Homo sapiens: one gene and its partner. The protein of the gene in region 2 interacts with the protein of the main gene of each other region in a biochemical or structural test. Each region holds a gene or a part of one and is shown on either strand. Other genes may lie near its edges.

Region 1 (7,670 bases), on a different chromosome or scaffold from region 2:
AAGCCACAGGTTTTATAGCTTTATATTCTTAATGACTTTTTAAACAAATGCCTCTTTATACTTAGAATTATTACATATCTTTAGGCAAATATTGACGATAATTGAAATGATGTATTATATAATCTCAATTTTCCATTTTGTATTTAAAACACTATATATTAAAATAATAAACATCTGCTGGCTTTCCTTATTTTTATAACTTAAAGCAAATTATTCTTTTTTTCTTTCCAGTTAGATTTTGAGTCATAAAATGTGCTTAAGCTTTCTTTAAAATTTCACATAATTTAAGGTACCTTGAAAAGTATTATCTTTATTGGATTATGTTTTATATTTACTTATGCACAGGTCTTCCATCTGGAACTGGAGGTCTTGTAAAAAATTCTTTTCACTTGCTACGACAGCAGATGAGTCTTACGGAAATAATGAATTCAATCCATTCAGATGCCTCTCTGTTTTTAGAAAGTACAGAAGACACTGGACTACAGGAACATACAGATGATAACTGCCTTTATTGTGTCTGTATTGAAATTCTGGGTTTCCAGCCCAGCAACCAACTGAGTGCAATATGTAGTCATTCAGGTAAGTGATCACGTCCCACCTTCAGAAAAACCTAGTGATGACTAAAGTTCTCTGGTTTACTTTTCCAAATTTCTTTTTGGTATTCTAATTCAGAGTTTCCCAGCTGGTGAGCTGCAGCACACTGATATGCCAAATTATGTTATGCTGAGATGCTGATCCTCTCACGGTTCCAGGTCACAGTGGGGCCTGAGTCTGACAGATCCCTGGATTAGGTCTTTTCCACTGTGAACAGCCCTGTCCAGGCCCTTTGCATGCTGTAGTTATTTTCATTTTCTATGAGGAAAAAAGTTTTGGAAGTGTTTGGTATATTGCATACAATTAGAGAAGATGTTATTTTATATTATTTCTTTTTAGCATGCAATGTAAGCACAGGAATTAAGCCGTTATGGTGCTTTAATTGAAATAATTATTTTTTTCTTCAGACTTTCAAGATATTCCATATTCTGATTGGTGTGAGCAGACTATCCATAATCCTTTAGAAGTGGTTCCCTCTAAGTTTTCGGGGATTTCTGGATGCAGTGATGGGGTGTCTCAAGAAGGCTCAGCTAGCAGCACCAAAAGCACAGAATTGTTACTAGGTGAGTCTTCAGATTCAAATCCAATCATTATTAGTAAAACTGTTCTGATTAGTTGGTTTTGTTTTGTTTTTCGTAAATACTGTAAATTAAAGTTGTCTCAAAACAGTAATACGTCCATTTTAGTGAAGCAATTTAACACTGTTAATTATTGCACCTATATCACCCACTGACATAGAGCCTCTTAGCTATCTGCTTTTATTAGAGTTTTGCTCCCAAAATGATTGGTAGATCATGTGTAATTGATCTCTAGGTCTTTAGGTGAAGTTTAAAAATAAATTTCATGAGTTTTAATCATTTTATTGTGACATAGATAATATTTAACTTCTCCCTGAAATCTTTTCAGGTGTTAAAACAATTCCAGATGATACACCAATGTGCCGTATACTCCTTCGCAAAGAAGTTCTAAGATTAGTCATTAATTTGAGTAGTTCAGTTTCAACTAAATGTCATGAGACTGGGCTTTTAACGTGAGTAAACTATGTGCATGAGTATTATTTGTTTATTCTGTTTTTTAAGTCGAGAAAAGATACTTGAAATACTTCAAAAGTTAGGCTAGTTAACTTACATCAGTAGTTCTAAACTGCATTGCATACCTGTGTGAGGCTAGATTTTCTTTAATACTTCAGCCAAAACAACATATGGCAACAGATTGAATGTAGAAGCAAGTATGAGAATCCAGCTATCTTCTATTAAGCCAGACTTTTGAAGAGATCTGCAAAAAATGTAAAATAATGCCACTCTTCTCACTTTTTTACTTTTGGAAAATACAGTTATTTTTATTAAAATACATGTTAACATGTAATGGATTTATTTTTAAAATAAATTAATGCATGTTAGGAAATTCTCTCAATTTTAATTTCTAATATAGTAGTTAATGGTGGCTGTAACCCACACAAAAATAAGCTTTTTTGGGTCTTCAGTAATTTTTAAGAAAGTAAGTCCTGAGACCAAAAAGTTTGAGGAAAGTGGGCTTACATGTAACAAGTCATATTTTCTTGGTTTAATTTTTTTCTTATTATTTAAAGCAGTGGTTCTTAAAAGAAATGCACCTCAGGGTCTCCTGCAGGGCTTTTTTATTTTGTATTTTGTATTTCTTTTTTGAGACGGAGTCTTGCTCTGTCACCCAGGCTGGAGTGCAGTGGTGCAATCTCGGCTCACTGCAACCTCTGCCTCCCGGGTTCAAGCAATCCTCCTGCCTCAGCCTCCCAAGTAGCTGGGATTACAGGTGTGTACCACCACACCTAGCTAATTTTTGTATTTTTAGTAGAAACAGAGTTTCGCCAGGTTAGCCAGGTTGGTCTCAAACTCCTGACCTCAGGTGATCTCCTGTCTCAGCCTCCCAAAGTGCTGGGATTACAGGCATGAGCCACCGTGCCCAGCCAGCTGTAGGGCTTTTTTTTAAGGGTGATATAGGTATTGGGGTCCCACATAGGTATCAGGGTCCCACAGCAGACCTCTGGGCTGGGAGCTCTGGGAGCGGGCCCTTAACTGGTCACTCACCCAACTCACAGCTGATTCTGAGGTGCTTTCCTAGCTAAAAGCTGCTATTTGAAGTATCCAAAGAAATAGCCCAGTCAGGGATGTTAATAACTTAACTTTAAAGATGTATTTCTATTTTAAAACTTAATTTGGAACATATTTTAATCATCCTAGGCTGATAAATATATTTTGCAATTTCTCATGCCAATAAAAAAGAATGCTTCAATTTTACAAGAAGTATTCAGGTTTTGATAATCATTTTTTTTAAAAAAAAACCCAAACTCAGAATGTCTAAGTGTGTGACAGGAATATTTAATATTTTATATTCTCAAGTCATCACCCCAAGTATGCCATCTAATCCATATCTGTAGGGAAATCTATTTTTAAAGTAAGTGATACCTTGGAGGAAAAATAGATACATCATGATTACAGTTTTCATCACACCATAATCTTTTATTTTAGAATTAAGGAGAAGTATCCTCAAACATTTGATGACATATGCCTTTACTCTGAGGTTTCCCATTTGCTGTCACACTGCACATTCAGACTTCCGTGTCGGAGGTTCATACAAGAATTATTTCAAGATGTACAGTTTCTACAAGTAAGTATGATTAGTACTTCTCAAATTTATCTTCCAAGAATAATTCTGTGTTTGAATTGAATTAAAATACAGATTATAGCTGGGTGTGGTGACTCATGCCTACAATCCCAGCACTTTGTGGGGTCAGCGCGGGAGAATTGCTTGAGCCCAGGAATTCAAGACCAGCCTGGGCAACATAGTGAGACCGTGTCAACACAGTTTTTTTTTTTTTTTAATTAGCCGAGGTTGGTGTCATCTGCCTGTATTCCCAGCTACTTGGGAGGCTGAGGTGGGAGGATCATATGAACCCAGGACTCAGAGGTTGCAATGAACAAAGATGGCAACATTGTGCTGCATCCTGGGAAGACTGAGCAAGACCCTATCTCAAAAAAAAAAAAAAATTAGATATTTATATAAATATGTTATATCATCTGTTTTTATAAAAGTAATTGATGATACACCATTTTTTCCCTAGATGCATGAAGAAGCAGAGGCTGTGTTGGCAACACCACCAAAGCAACCTATAGTTGATACATCTGCTGAATCCTGACCTCATATTTATGATGGATATAGATACATACTATATATATTCATATTTGTGGATTTCCTAAAAGCCTCAGAAAATACGACTGACTAGGCAGCAAAGACAGGAGTATCTTCTGTACACTGTTCCGCAGTTACTGGTACATGAACAGTTGGAACTGCTGACTTTCCTAACCAAAACAACTTCCTTCTCTCCTTTGTTGAGCCTTTTGAGGGGTTCATGATTCATTACCACAGTTTTAAGAGTTTCAGTTACCATTGTATGCAAGAGCCAAGCACTGAATACCTACATAGGTTTTCTATTTTCTTTCATTTTAAAAGCATAATGACAGTGGAACAATAATGGGATATGCAGAAGCACCCTTCACAAGTTATTTCTGAATGATTTTTAGGGTAAATAATACAGATGCCTTGTTTGTTAACTAACTTGTGGAAAGCAGGAATCAGTGTCTCTAAGGCTGCATCCTATTACCACAATGGGGTGTGCTATAACTGCTGGTATTAGAGAGGGAACTTTGGCCCTTTCACGTTTTTCTTAATGTTTGTAACACTACTTCAGAGGTTTATAACCTCAAAGCAGAAGAAGAGCCTCAACAACCCGGGACTTATAAGTTATTTTTATGTTACTAGACTTGCATAAAGATTCTTGTTTTCCAACTCTTCATTTTGTTGCAATGTGTTATTACAGGATATATGAACCAATTAAGGTTTTTCACTACAGTTCTTGAATAAAATTTAAAAATCATTTTTTATTTTAATTAAAAATATTTCCCATTTATAGAATGCATATATTTGCAATGGACTTCCACTTTCATCAACTTTCCATCTCATCGCTTTAAACAGGAACTTGAACAAGCACTGTTAGTTTAGACCTAAAGGATAGGAAAGCATTAAATAATACTTTGGATCTCCTGAGGAAAAGATAAGTTTGCTTGCAATTTACACATTCCATGGGGAAAGAAGAGCCATATTTCCTTAAAAAAAACATTAATAAAGCTTGTTATTGAGAAAAATTGTAGTGAAAAGCCTTAAGTACCAAATTTTAAAGCAGCAGTAACTTAATTTTTATATCAGTGTTTTTGTTTTGCACAAACTAAATGCAGTGGTAGGTGGGTTTATGAGTATATTAATTGCCTTTATCCATTTGTGAAGTTAAGTTGATGAGGGCAAGGTTTTTGTTTGTTTAATTTGTATATGTCTAAAGGTATTTGGAACTTTTTACAGGAATTAAACATATATGCAAATTTGTATATAAAAATAGCATGGCCATCATTTGAATGCTTGTAAATGAAAGGATTATCTTTTTTGAGATCTATATATAAATAGAAATAGAAAATCCAGCTGGACTGATTAGGATTCTTTTTTAATTCATTTGTGTATAACATTTTTATTACAATTACACATCAGTTTTGACACAGTCATAGCAACATTAATATTTTCCCATGATGCAGATCCTTTTTGTAATGGGCTTGTTCTTTGAGATCTCTGTAAAGAACCCTGTGAACTAGAAAACATAACTCACAGAGATACTTTTTTAAAAAATTTATTTACTGGAACTGAAAGTTCCAGTTGGGATGAAGCATTTCATCTCACTTCATAACACCTCTTTGACTGCACTTCAGTGAATTGTTCTTATGTGCACTGTGTAGCAACTTACATTATAACAAAGCAGATAAGGGCTGTAAGCTGCTGCTTATGTTGAAAAGTGGTTCTTCAGATTTTCTCTCATAAAATCCAGTTGAAGATAAATAATTTTTTTATACTTTATCACTGAACCCAAGTGTTTATTTAAATGTCAACAGTACTTCTAAGAACGTTGCCTGTCATCGTGGTCTTTGGTCTTGGATAACTAAACTGCCTTTCCAGAGAACCAAATGTCAGAGTTACTAGACCAAATAGTGGTTAAAACCTCCAAAGGAAGTAATGTAATCTTATTCATAATGGGATTAACATATTTTAGACATTCATTTTAAACACTACCTCAGTTAATATAGAGTATAAAAATCTGTGGTTTAATCCCTCAAAAGTTAACAGTAATTTTTTTTTTGTCTTACACACACACACACCCCCTCCCCCACCATCACTATCCCTGTACCCTCACCTTGGTCATCTATCCTGAAATAAGGCTTAGTTAGTATTGGCCTGAATGTTTTGTGTTTTTTTTTTTGTTTTTTTTTTTTACTGTTACTTTGAAAAATATGTATGTATACCTTATCATATCTGCCTATATCACTTACTTTGGGGAGATACTCAGAGCTTTGTGGTTATCAGTATACTAAAAAAAAAAAAAAGTCTACGCTTAAATTTATAGTGCTATTTGGTTTCTCCATGATTTCACTGACAGGTCTAATACATTTTCTTTGAGTACTTGTTTGTAAAAAGTAGACTTTATGGTGAAAAATACATGCAGTGCCAAGTGATTAACTTAAGTGTTTAAAAATATTAAATTATAGCAGAAGAGGTTAGGAATGATATCAGCAGTAATAGAAATAATTGAGAAAATCATCTATAAATAATAGATATTACAGACTATAGAATACCAAAATAATGTCAATACTGTAGTTTTTAAAGATTTTAGGATTAATCTTAGTCCATATAAATTTGTACTATTGGTAATTATTGAATAATTGGGAGGAATCTGGGCAGTTGTGCTGGTTGTAAACTATGAATTTCTAATCGTAAAGTGAATTGTTATTTCTAATTGAACTTTTTTTCAAGAACAGATTTCAGCCTCACATACTAAGTAAATACTGATAAATAAGGAAATTAGAAATTTAGTATTCATAATTAAATATGCTCTAAAATTTCCTATACTTTTATTTCCTGTTTATTCTTAGGTAGATTGGAAGGGGGAAACAGTCTGTTCTCCCTAATTAAATTTTTTCTAATAACGATTAGTAGAATATGGACATTCTATATGACAGTGACATTAAAAGAGGCTCTTTGGAAGTATATACATTATTAACATAATGTGTACAAGTCCTTTTGAAATGACAACTTTAATGGGTTTCAGCTCTTTTATCTAGAGCTTGAGATAATTCAAGCTGAGTTTTTCAGGGCATATCACAACGGCCAAGTGTTCAGCAGTGGGATATCAATGCTTATTTACATTTTCCTACTGCTATTTATATAAAATGTTATTCCATTCAGAGGATGCCTTTTATCCCCACATTAAAGCACAGATCATTAAGCAATAAAAACCAAATTGTCTGTCATTCAAATTATAACTGCAGTTATTTTTGCATGGTAAGAGTGAGGTGCTAATTTTGTGTGAGATGAACTTTGTAAACTACTTTGGGAAATGTTCTTTGGAAGTAAGGTTTTTTCTCCTTTAGTCTTATGCTTCCACTTTTGTCTCAGATTCACAATCCATTAAAACATGGGGAAAAAAGAAAAGGTAAAATTGAGAGACTTTTGTTAGAGGAGCTATTTGGAATGAACCAACATTTCAGATTTTCCAAAATGTAAGTTAGGAAGTCTCCATTGTCTCTGCATTAACAAAATACACTGTTACTATCTTAATCTCAAGAGTGTCATTACAGTGAGAATCTCATTTAAAAGCATACCAGTGAAATTAATAGCAGTGCTTATCAAAGAACACTGAAATCTGTGAGAATCTTTCTAGGAGCATTCTTTTCTTCTTTTAGTTCCAAGTTCCAGGGTATTTTTCATTCCTAGTAGGTTTATATGACTCACAGAATGTGGACTTTTTTCCTGTTTGGAGTATTTTTGTAATGTAAGTATCGGATAGCTGCACCACAGCATGCATAAATTGCACATTTTGTTTTACTTTCTTTATAGAATATTTAATTTCAAAAATATAATTTATGCCAAAAAAAGCATACCTTTCAATTTTGCTACTTGGTTGATTTAGCACAAAATGCAAAGTCTTGGGGCAGAGAGGGGGAGTG
Region 2 (7,698 bases):
GAGCCGATGGAGACTGATAACGGCCCTGCGCCAGGCCGTCCCCGGGCGGTCCTCGCGCCCCCGCCCGGGGCTCGCCCTCTCAATGGGGACAGAACCGCCCGCCGCAGGCAGCGTAGCCGCCAGCAAACCGCGAGGCGGCCGGGGCGGGGCGAGGGGCGAGGCGAAGGGCGGGGCCACTTCTCACTGTCGCGCAGGCCCCGCCCCCGCGGCGGTGCCTTTTTTATAAGGCCGAGCGCGCGGCCTGGCGCAGCATACGCCGAGCCGGTCTTTGAGCGCTAACGTCTTTCTGTCTCCCCGCGGTGGTGATGACGGTGAAAACTGAGGCTGCTAAGGGCACCCTCACTTACTCCAGGATGAGGGGCATGGTGGCAATTCTCATCGGTGAGTGCAGGAATCTTGCGGGACTTCTGCTCCAGGAGACGCAAAGTGGAAATTTTTTGAAAGTCCCGGATCAGATTAGTGTGTGTGGCGCCGGACGTTATGAAGCCGTCTAAACGTTTCTTTATTTCTCCTCCTTCATCCACAGCTTTCATGAAGCAGAGGAGGATGGGTCTGAACGACTTTATTCAGAAGATTGCCAATAACTCCTATGCATGCAAACAGTAAGTTTGACCGGATTTGAGGAAATAACTAGTATAGTTTGAATTTGCCAGCGGTAAACATTCTCATCACGGCGTTTATCGGGAAGGCGAAGACTTCTTCTGGGGTGGGGATCTCATTTCTCCTTAAATTCTAATATATTTGACACATTTTAAACATTAAAGTTAATTTGCTGATTTGGCTTGAACTGGAGATGTAAGATAAATGGTTCGTGTTGGCCGAATTCACGGCCTTTCTCCATGAGCAACAATCCTTATTTCTGTATTTAATGGGGTTTATTATTTTCTTTAACTGACTAATGTATTGGGGTATTTTCAGTTTAAACAGTGAATTATCCGGGTAGAAGTCGGTAGAGCCAGAAACTCACTTTTGATGTTGGTGTGCCCCCTAGTGGCGAGCTGGATTCTAAATCGTGCCCTTTATTCCCTGCAGCCCTGAAGTTCAGTCCATCTTGAAGATCTCCCAACCTCAGGAGCCTGAGCTTATGAATGCCAACCCTTCTCCTCCAGTAAGTTTTTGTATGTGCCGTGCATCTGTGGAGAACTGTAAGGGAGTCAGTTAGTATTCCTACATTAATGGATTAAAATAGCATTTCTAGAAATTAGTATCAAGGCAGGAATGCTTCATTATGGCATAACAAGTGATATAAATATTTAAGTATTGAGTCAGAGTATTATTTTATTTTTTTCCTGGGCATATTTTACCTCCAAAGTGGTTATTTTAAAAGGCATATTTCATAAAAAGGTTTTATCTGTCTGAAACAACATGACTGTGTGCAGTTTCCATACTCATTTGAAATGTGATGAAATGTAGTTTTGAATGTTTATAGATGTATGGTCATTTGCATCAGTCATTTGTAGATGTAACATTTTCTACATCGTTTATGTTATAGATGTCTTCCTTTGAAGCAATGGTATTAAAAGAAATTCTTTTTTTTTTTTTCTAGCCAAGTCCTTCTCAGCAAATCAACCTTGGCCCGTCGTCCAATCCTCATGCTAAACCATCTGACTTTCACTTCTTGAAAGTGATCGGAAAGGGCAGTTTTGGAAAGGTAATTTCAAATCTGAAGATCTTTTGGTACACTTCCTTCATGTCCTCTTTTGTATTCTCCCTGGATGAGGATAGAAAAATGATTTTTTTAAATTGAAATTTCAGGTTCTTCTAGCAAGACACAAGGCAGAAGAAGTGTTCTATGCAGTCAAAGTTTTACAGAAGAAAGCAATCCTGAAAAAGAAAGAGGTATGAGATGTGCTTGATGGGGCTGGCATTGGCGGTAGACACTCCTTGAATAATCTTGATTCTGGAATGTTGGTGCCAAGTTGAAACATGCCACTAAATCTGAATCGTCATTTTCCTAGGAGAAGCATATTATGTCGGAGCGGAATGTTCTGTTGAAGAATGTGAAGCACCCTTTCCTGGTGGGCCTTCACTTCTCTTTCCAGACTGCTGACAAATTGTACTTTGTCCTAGACTACATTAATGGTGGAGAGGTGAGCAGGGGGGATAGAAGTCAACTCTTAGTGTCTCTGCACAGCCTGCTTTGTTTTAGTTTGAGAAAAAAGTTTTCAAAGATTTTTGGTGGGGAGAATGTTACCAGAATTAGCATTTCCTTCAACCTGTCAGGTTTATAGTTAATAGATTACTTGGGGCCACTTCCTGCAGTTGTTCTTTTGCTGTGTATGTCAAAACTAATTAAATTCATTTGCAACCCAGAATGACTTTGTTCTGTCTCCTGCAGTTGTTCTACCATCTCCAGAGGGAACGCTGCTTCCTGGAACCACGGGCTCGTTTCTATGCTGCTGAAATAGCCAGTGCCTTGGGCTACCTGCATTCACTGAACATCGTTTATAGGTAAGCCTGAGAGCTCTTCAGGCTACCAGTTTTGGTATAAAGGAGACGTAGCACTGGCTGTTTCATAGGGCCTTAAAATAATTTGTGTTTATTTGCAACTTGGTTGCCTAAAACCAGATCCCCTAGCACGTGAGCTGGCTTGACTTAAGTGCCAAGGGGGAACCAGCCAAGTAGGATTGTGCCTAATCCAGAATAGATGAGCAGAACAAGGGCTCCCTTTTTTCTTCACTACACAACTACAGTGAACCTAAAATGCCTCTAATACCTTTAGCAATTATCTTTAAGAGGATATCTTATGAAGTGAAATTAACTTGTGCAACTACTTTTCTATTCACTTTTTTACAGAGACTTAAAACCAGAGAATATTTTGCTAGATTCACAGGGACACATTGTCCTTACTGACTTCGGACTCTGCAAGGAGAACATTGAACACAACAGCACAACATCCACCTTCTGTGGCACGCCGGAGGTAGGCGCTGTCTTGGTTTGGTGCCTGGTTTACCCCCGCCTTCCAAGAGAGAGATGTACAATCATGCACTTAACTACCAAAAAGAGTAAACTCCTCTCAGAGACTTCTTAATACAGTTCAGTGCAAATAAAATACATTTGCTGTTTGATGTAGCATGAGAAATCCCAAGTCCTTCTGTTCCTTTACTGAAAAGTAGCTGTTTGTAAGTAAGATCTGCATCATAAAAACTTTCTAAATCCCTAAGTAAGAGATATCAAGTGCCCAGCAGTTTCCTAAATGTCAGTACACATAGGTAGCCAGTCACCCTCAAAAAGTCCAGCAGTTTTATCAGGAAGGAATCTAAAGATATCTATCTTCCAAGCTGGCTCTGGGTCTCTCAGCTTTTTCAAACTAAATGTGTGGTCGTGGGATTGCTTGCTTTCGCAGGTTCTAAACGCTGTTTCCCTGGTCTGTTTTTCAGTATCTCGCACCTGAGGTGCTTCATAAGCAGCCTTATGACAGGACTGTGGACTGGTGGTGCCTGGGAGCTGTCTTGTATGAGATGCTGTATGGCCTGGTGAGTGGCACATTGGGAACCATGGAACACTGCCTGCTCCCTACAATATTGCCTTCACACAGCCCATGCTTGGCCATGGTGTCTTGCCCTTACCAGTACGCTTATCAAAAGCAGCTAAGAGGCATATTGGTTATTTTATAGTTCATAAGAATAATCACTTACCTGGTTCTTTTGTGCATTTCACATTTTACTAGATAGGACCACATTGAACCTGTGTGGTGGTGAAAAACTACCACTTATTAACATCTACCCCCTCACCCTCCACACACACACACACAAACACACACACGGGTTGCAAAGTAGACACTTAAATAGCAAGGGAAAAGAAAGCATTGAGGTGGGGAGAGTTTCTCAAATCGAGCCTAATATTTATTGCCGTTTATATCTTTTTCTCTACTGGTAATGTGTGCCATATGAAACTTCCAATTAAGTCTAAAGTAATTTTCCCCTTCTTTCAGCCGCCTTTTTATAGCCGAAACACAGCTGAAATGTACGACAACATTCTGAACAAGCCTCTCCAGCTGAAACCAAATATTACAAATTCCGCAAGACACCTCCTGGAGGGCCTCCTGCAGAAGGACAGGACAAAGCGGCTCGGGGCCAAGGATGACTTCGTGAGTGATGTTTTCCTGTCCTCCTGGGCCGGCCGGGACGTGCACTAGACCTCCCTGCCCTTATTGAATGCACCTGTCTAAATTAATCTTGGGTTTCTTATCAACAGATGGAGATTAAGAGTCATGTCTTCTTCTCCTTAATTAACTGGGATGATCTCATTAATAAGAAGATTACTCCCCCTTTTAACCCAAATGTGGTGAGTATCTGTCTCTCTTCTAAGTATAGAGAAGCCCAAAGGGCATTTATTTTAATTCAGAATTGTCTGGGGGAGGGTTGGAAGGAATACATTGGCAGATGTTTTCTCCATAAACCTGTTATTTTACCTACATAAAAAGCACATTTTTGTGTCCCAACAAGGCTCCCATAATTTTTAGACACATTTATCAATTCGAAGCACCAAAAGGCAACAAGTGAACATTATTCTTATGTTTAACTGTGTGTAGCCTTTTGAGATTTTGTGCTTGAAGTGGGTGATTATGGAAGTTGATATAAGACTTAAACTTGGTATTTAAAGCCTGGTCAAGATTTCCCTGTCCTGTGTCTAGTGTGAGTTCTTGACAAGAGTGTTTTTCCCTTCCCGTCACAGAGTGGGCCCAACGACCTACGGCACTTTGACCCCGAGTTTACCGAAGAGCCTGTCCCCAACTCCATTGGCAAGTCCCCTGACAGCGTCCTCGTCACAGCCAGCGTCAAGGAAGCTGCCGAGGCTTTCCTAGGCTTTTCCTATGCGCCTCCCACGGACTCTTTCCTCTGAACCCTGTTAGGGCTTGGTTTTAAAGGATTTTATGTGTGTTTCCGAATGTTTTAGTTAGCCTTTTGGTGGAGCCGCCAGCTGACAGGACATCTTACAAGAGAATTTGCACATCTCTGGAAGCTTAGCAATCTTATTGCACACTGTTCGCTGGAAGCTTTTTGAAGAGCACATTCTCCTCAGTGAGCTCATGAGGTTTTCATTTTTATTCTTCCTTCCAACGTGGTGCTATCTCTGAAACGAGCGTTAGAGTGCCGCCTTAGACGGAGGCAGGAGTTTCGTTAGAAAGCGGACGCTGTTCTAAAAAAGGTCTCCTGCAGATCTGTCTGGGCTGTGATGACGAATATTATGAAATGTGCCTTTTCTGAAGAGATTGTGTTAGCTCCAAAGCTTTTCCTATCGCAGTGTTTCAGTTCTTTATTTTCCCTTGTGGATATGCTGTGTGAACCGTCGTGTGAGTGTGGTATGCCTGATCACAGATGGATTTTGTTATAAGCATCAATGTGACACTTGCAGGACACTACAACGTGGGACATTGTTTGTTTCTTCCATATTTGGAAGATAAATTTATGTGTAGACTTTTTTGTAAGATACGGTTAATAACTAAAATTTATTGAAATGGTCTTGCAATGACTCGTATTCAGATGCTTAAAGAAAGCATTGCTGCTACAAATATTTCTATTTTTAGAAAGGGTTTTTATGGACCAATGCCCCAGTTGTCAGTCAGAGCCGTTGGTGTTTTTCATTGTTTAAAATGTCACCTGTAAAATGGGCATTATTTATGTTTTTTTTTTTGCATTCCTGATAATTGTATGTATTGTATAAAGAACGTCTGTACATTGGGTTATAACACTAGTATATTTAAACTTACAGGCTTATTTGTAATGTAAACCACCATTTTAATGTACTGTAATTAACATGGTTATAATACGTACAATCCTTCCCTCATCCCATCACACAACTTTTTTTGTGTGTGATAAACTGATTTTGGTTTGCAATAAAACCTTGAAAAATATTTACATATATTGTGTCATGTGTTATTTTGTATATTTTGGTTAAGGGGGTAATCATGGGTTAGTTTAAAATTGAAAACCATGAAAATCCTGCTGTAATTTCCTGCTTAGTGGTTTGCTCCCAACAGCAGTGGTTTCTGACTCCAGGGGAGTATAGGATGGTCTTAAAGCCAACCTACGTTCCAGGCCTTTTTAGCAGCATTTTATGGTGTCTGTCATTCATAAATCCATCCAAGGAAATCCTTTGCAATTTACTCATCTTGCAAGGATTGCTATGAAGTAATGCTTCCTGTATTTATTGCCTGTCCTGTGAAGTTGGACTATTTGTCCTGACATTTGGCTTGTCTTCAGTTACAGGTAATTCTTTCCAGAAATATTTGAAAGCCTACTCTGGGCTCTATTGCGAGTGCTCAGGATATCGTAGTGGACAAAGCAGACAACTTCGCCCTTCCAGAGCCTGATGAAGAAGGCCGACCTAAAGCAGTTAGTTGAGATGGAAATTGAGAAATAGTCTGTGAAGTTTAGGAGAATGCCACACAAGAGGGTGAGAATTTTTTTTTTTTTTTTTTTTTTTTTTGAGACACGGTCTTACTCTGTCGCCCAGGCTGGAGTGCAGTGGTGTGATCTTGGTTCACTGCAGCCTCCGCCTCCTGGGTTCATGTGATCCCCCCATCTCAGCCTCCTGAGTAGCTGGGACTACAGGCATGCACCACCATGCCTGGCTAATTTTTGTATTTTAGTAGAGATGGGATTTCACCATGTGGGCCAGGCTGGTCTCGAATCCCTGGCCTCAAGTGATCTGTCTGCCTCGGCTTCCCTAAGTGCTGGGGAGAATGTTTTAAATAAGTGGATATGTTCCCAAAAAGCTGACCTGGCTGGGACATCTGGTTTCTGAGAGTACCTGGAGTTGACCCAGGTCTAGAGTGAGCTCAGTAAAGGGACCCTGAAGGAGCTCATCCCTAGCTTGGACTGAAGCTTCTTGAGCCAGTGTCTACCTAGCACCCTAAGGGCCCAGCAGGCTCTGGGGCTGTGTGGCAGAGCCCACTCCTAGAGCTCACCCCACTGTGATATTACCTGTGGGAGAAAGCGAGGTGGCACCATCCTTGGAGATCTTGAGTCCAAAGGTTTGGACTTTTTCACTCTTCTAGGTCTTCCACACAAATACTTAACAAATAATCAGGGAATCCCCAAACAGTTGATGTTGCTGCTGCCTTAATTGCAAAAGCACCCTGTAGGCCTGCTGCACCCCCGCTACCCTGACCTTCCAGTTCGCACAGGGATTTCCCCAAGGGAAAGCTGTGAGCTTTTTTCCTCTTATCCTTGCTCTTGGGTCTCACCTCACTTTGCCTCAGTCCCCCTCTCCTACCCCACAAGGTTTCCAAGGGCCAAACAGGTGTTCAGAGATAACCGAGTTCTTCTCCCTCATGATCTAATGAAGGAAGAAGATGAAAACGAGTCGATAGCTTTTTGCTCAAGGTGGGCCACCGGTCATGCTCTGCTGTTGACTTACTGCTCTACAGGCATTAGCTACGTGTTCAATTCCCTACCGGGCCCAGTTGACAAATAAAGAGTCCAAAGCAAGGCCAGGCACGGTGGCTCACGCTTGTAATCCCAGCACTTTGGGAGGCCGAGGCGGGCAGATCACGAGGTCAGGAGATCGAGACCATCCTGGCTAACATGGTGAAACCCCGTCTCTACTAAAAATACAAAAAAATTAGCCGGGCGTGGTGGTGGGCGCCTGTAGTCCCAGCTACTCGGGAGGCTGAGGCAGGAGAATGGCGTGAACCAGGGAGGCGGAGCTTGCAGTGAGCCGAGATCGCACCACTGCACTCCAGCCTGGGCG

The links. Proteins that work in one complex are often made in the same cells at the same time.
Region 1: of the proteins of SGK1 (region 2) and RICTOR, one has a biochemical effect on the other in vitro, tested with the Homo sapiens proteins (one study listed by BioGRID).

The regions. Positions count from the first base shown.
Region 1 is NC_000005.10:38,938,400-38,946,069, reverse strand, and holds part of RICTOR (rapamycin-insensitive companion of mTOR), read left to right. Parts: intron 1-345; coding exon 346-579; exon of another isoform or gene 580-1,001; coding exon 1,002-1,157; exon of another isoform or gene 1,158-1,500; coding exon 1,501-1,624; exon of another isoform or gene 1,625-1,836; coding exon of another isoform or gene 1,837-1,869; intron 1,870-3,098; coding exon 3,099-3,237; intron 3,238-3,691; coding exon 3,692-3,766; 3' UTR 3,767-7,670. UniProt on the Homo sapiens protein: Component of the mechanistic target of rapamycin complex 2 (mTORC2), which transduces signals from growth factors to pathways involved in proliferation, cytoskeletal organization, lipogenesis and anabolic output.
Region 2 is NC_000006.12:134,167,415-134,175,112, reverse strand, and holds the end of SGK1 (serine/threonine-protein kinase Sgk1), read left to right. Parts: intron 1-246; exon of another isoform or gene 247-305; coding exon of another isoform or gene 306-381; intron 382-526; coding exon 527-602; intron 603-1,032; coding exon 1,033-1,108; intron 1,109-1,546; coding exon 1,547-1,651; intron 1,652-1,755; coding exon 1,756-1,839; intron 1,840-1,958; coding exon 1,959-2,090; intron 2,091-2,338; coding exon 2,339-2,451; intron 2,452-2,796; coding exon 2,797-2,920; intron 2,921-3,380; coding exon 3,381-3,476; intron 3,477-3,934; coding exon 3,935-4,090; intron 4,091-4,197; coding exon 4,198-4,287; intron 4,288-4,677; coding exon 4,678-4,845; 3' UTR 4,846-5,857; downstream 5,858-7,698. UniProt on the Homo sapiens protein: Serine/threonine-protein kinase which is involved in the regulation of a wide variety of ion channels, membrane transporters, cellular enzymes, transcription factors, neuronal excitability, cell growth, proliferation, survival, migration and apoptosis.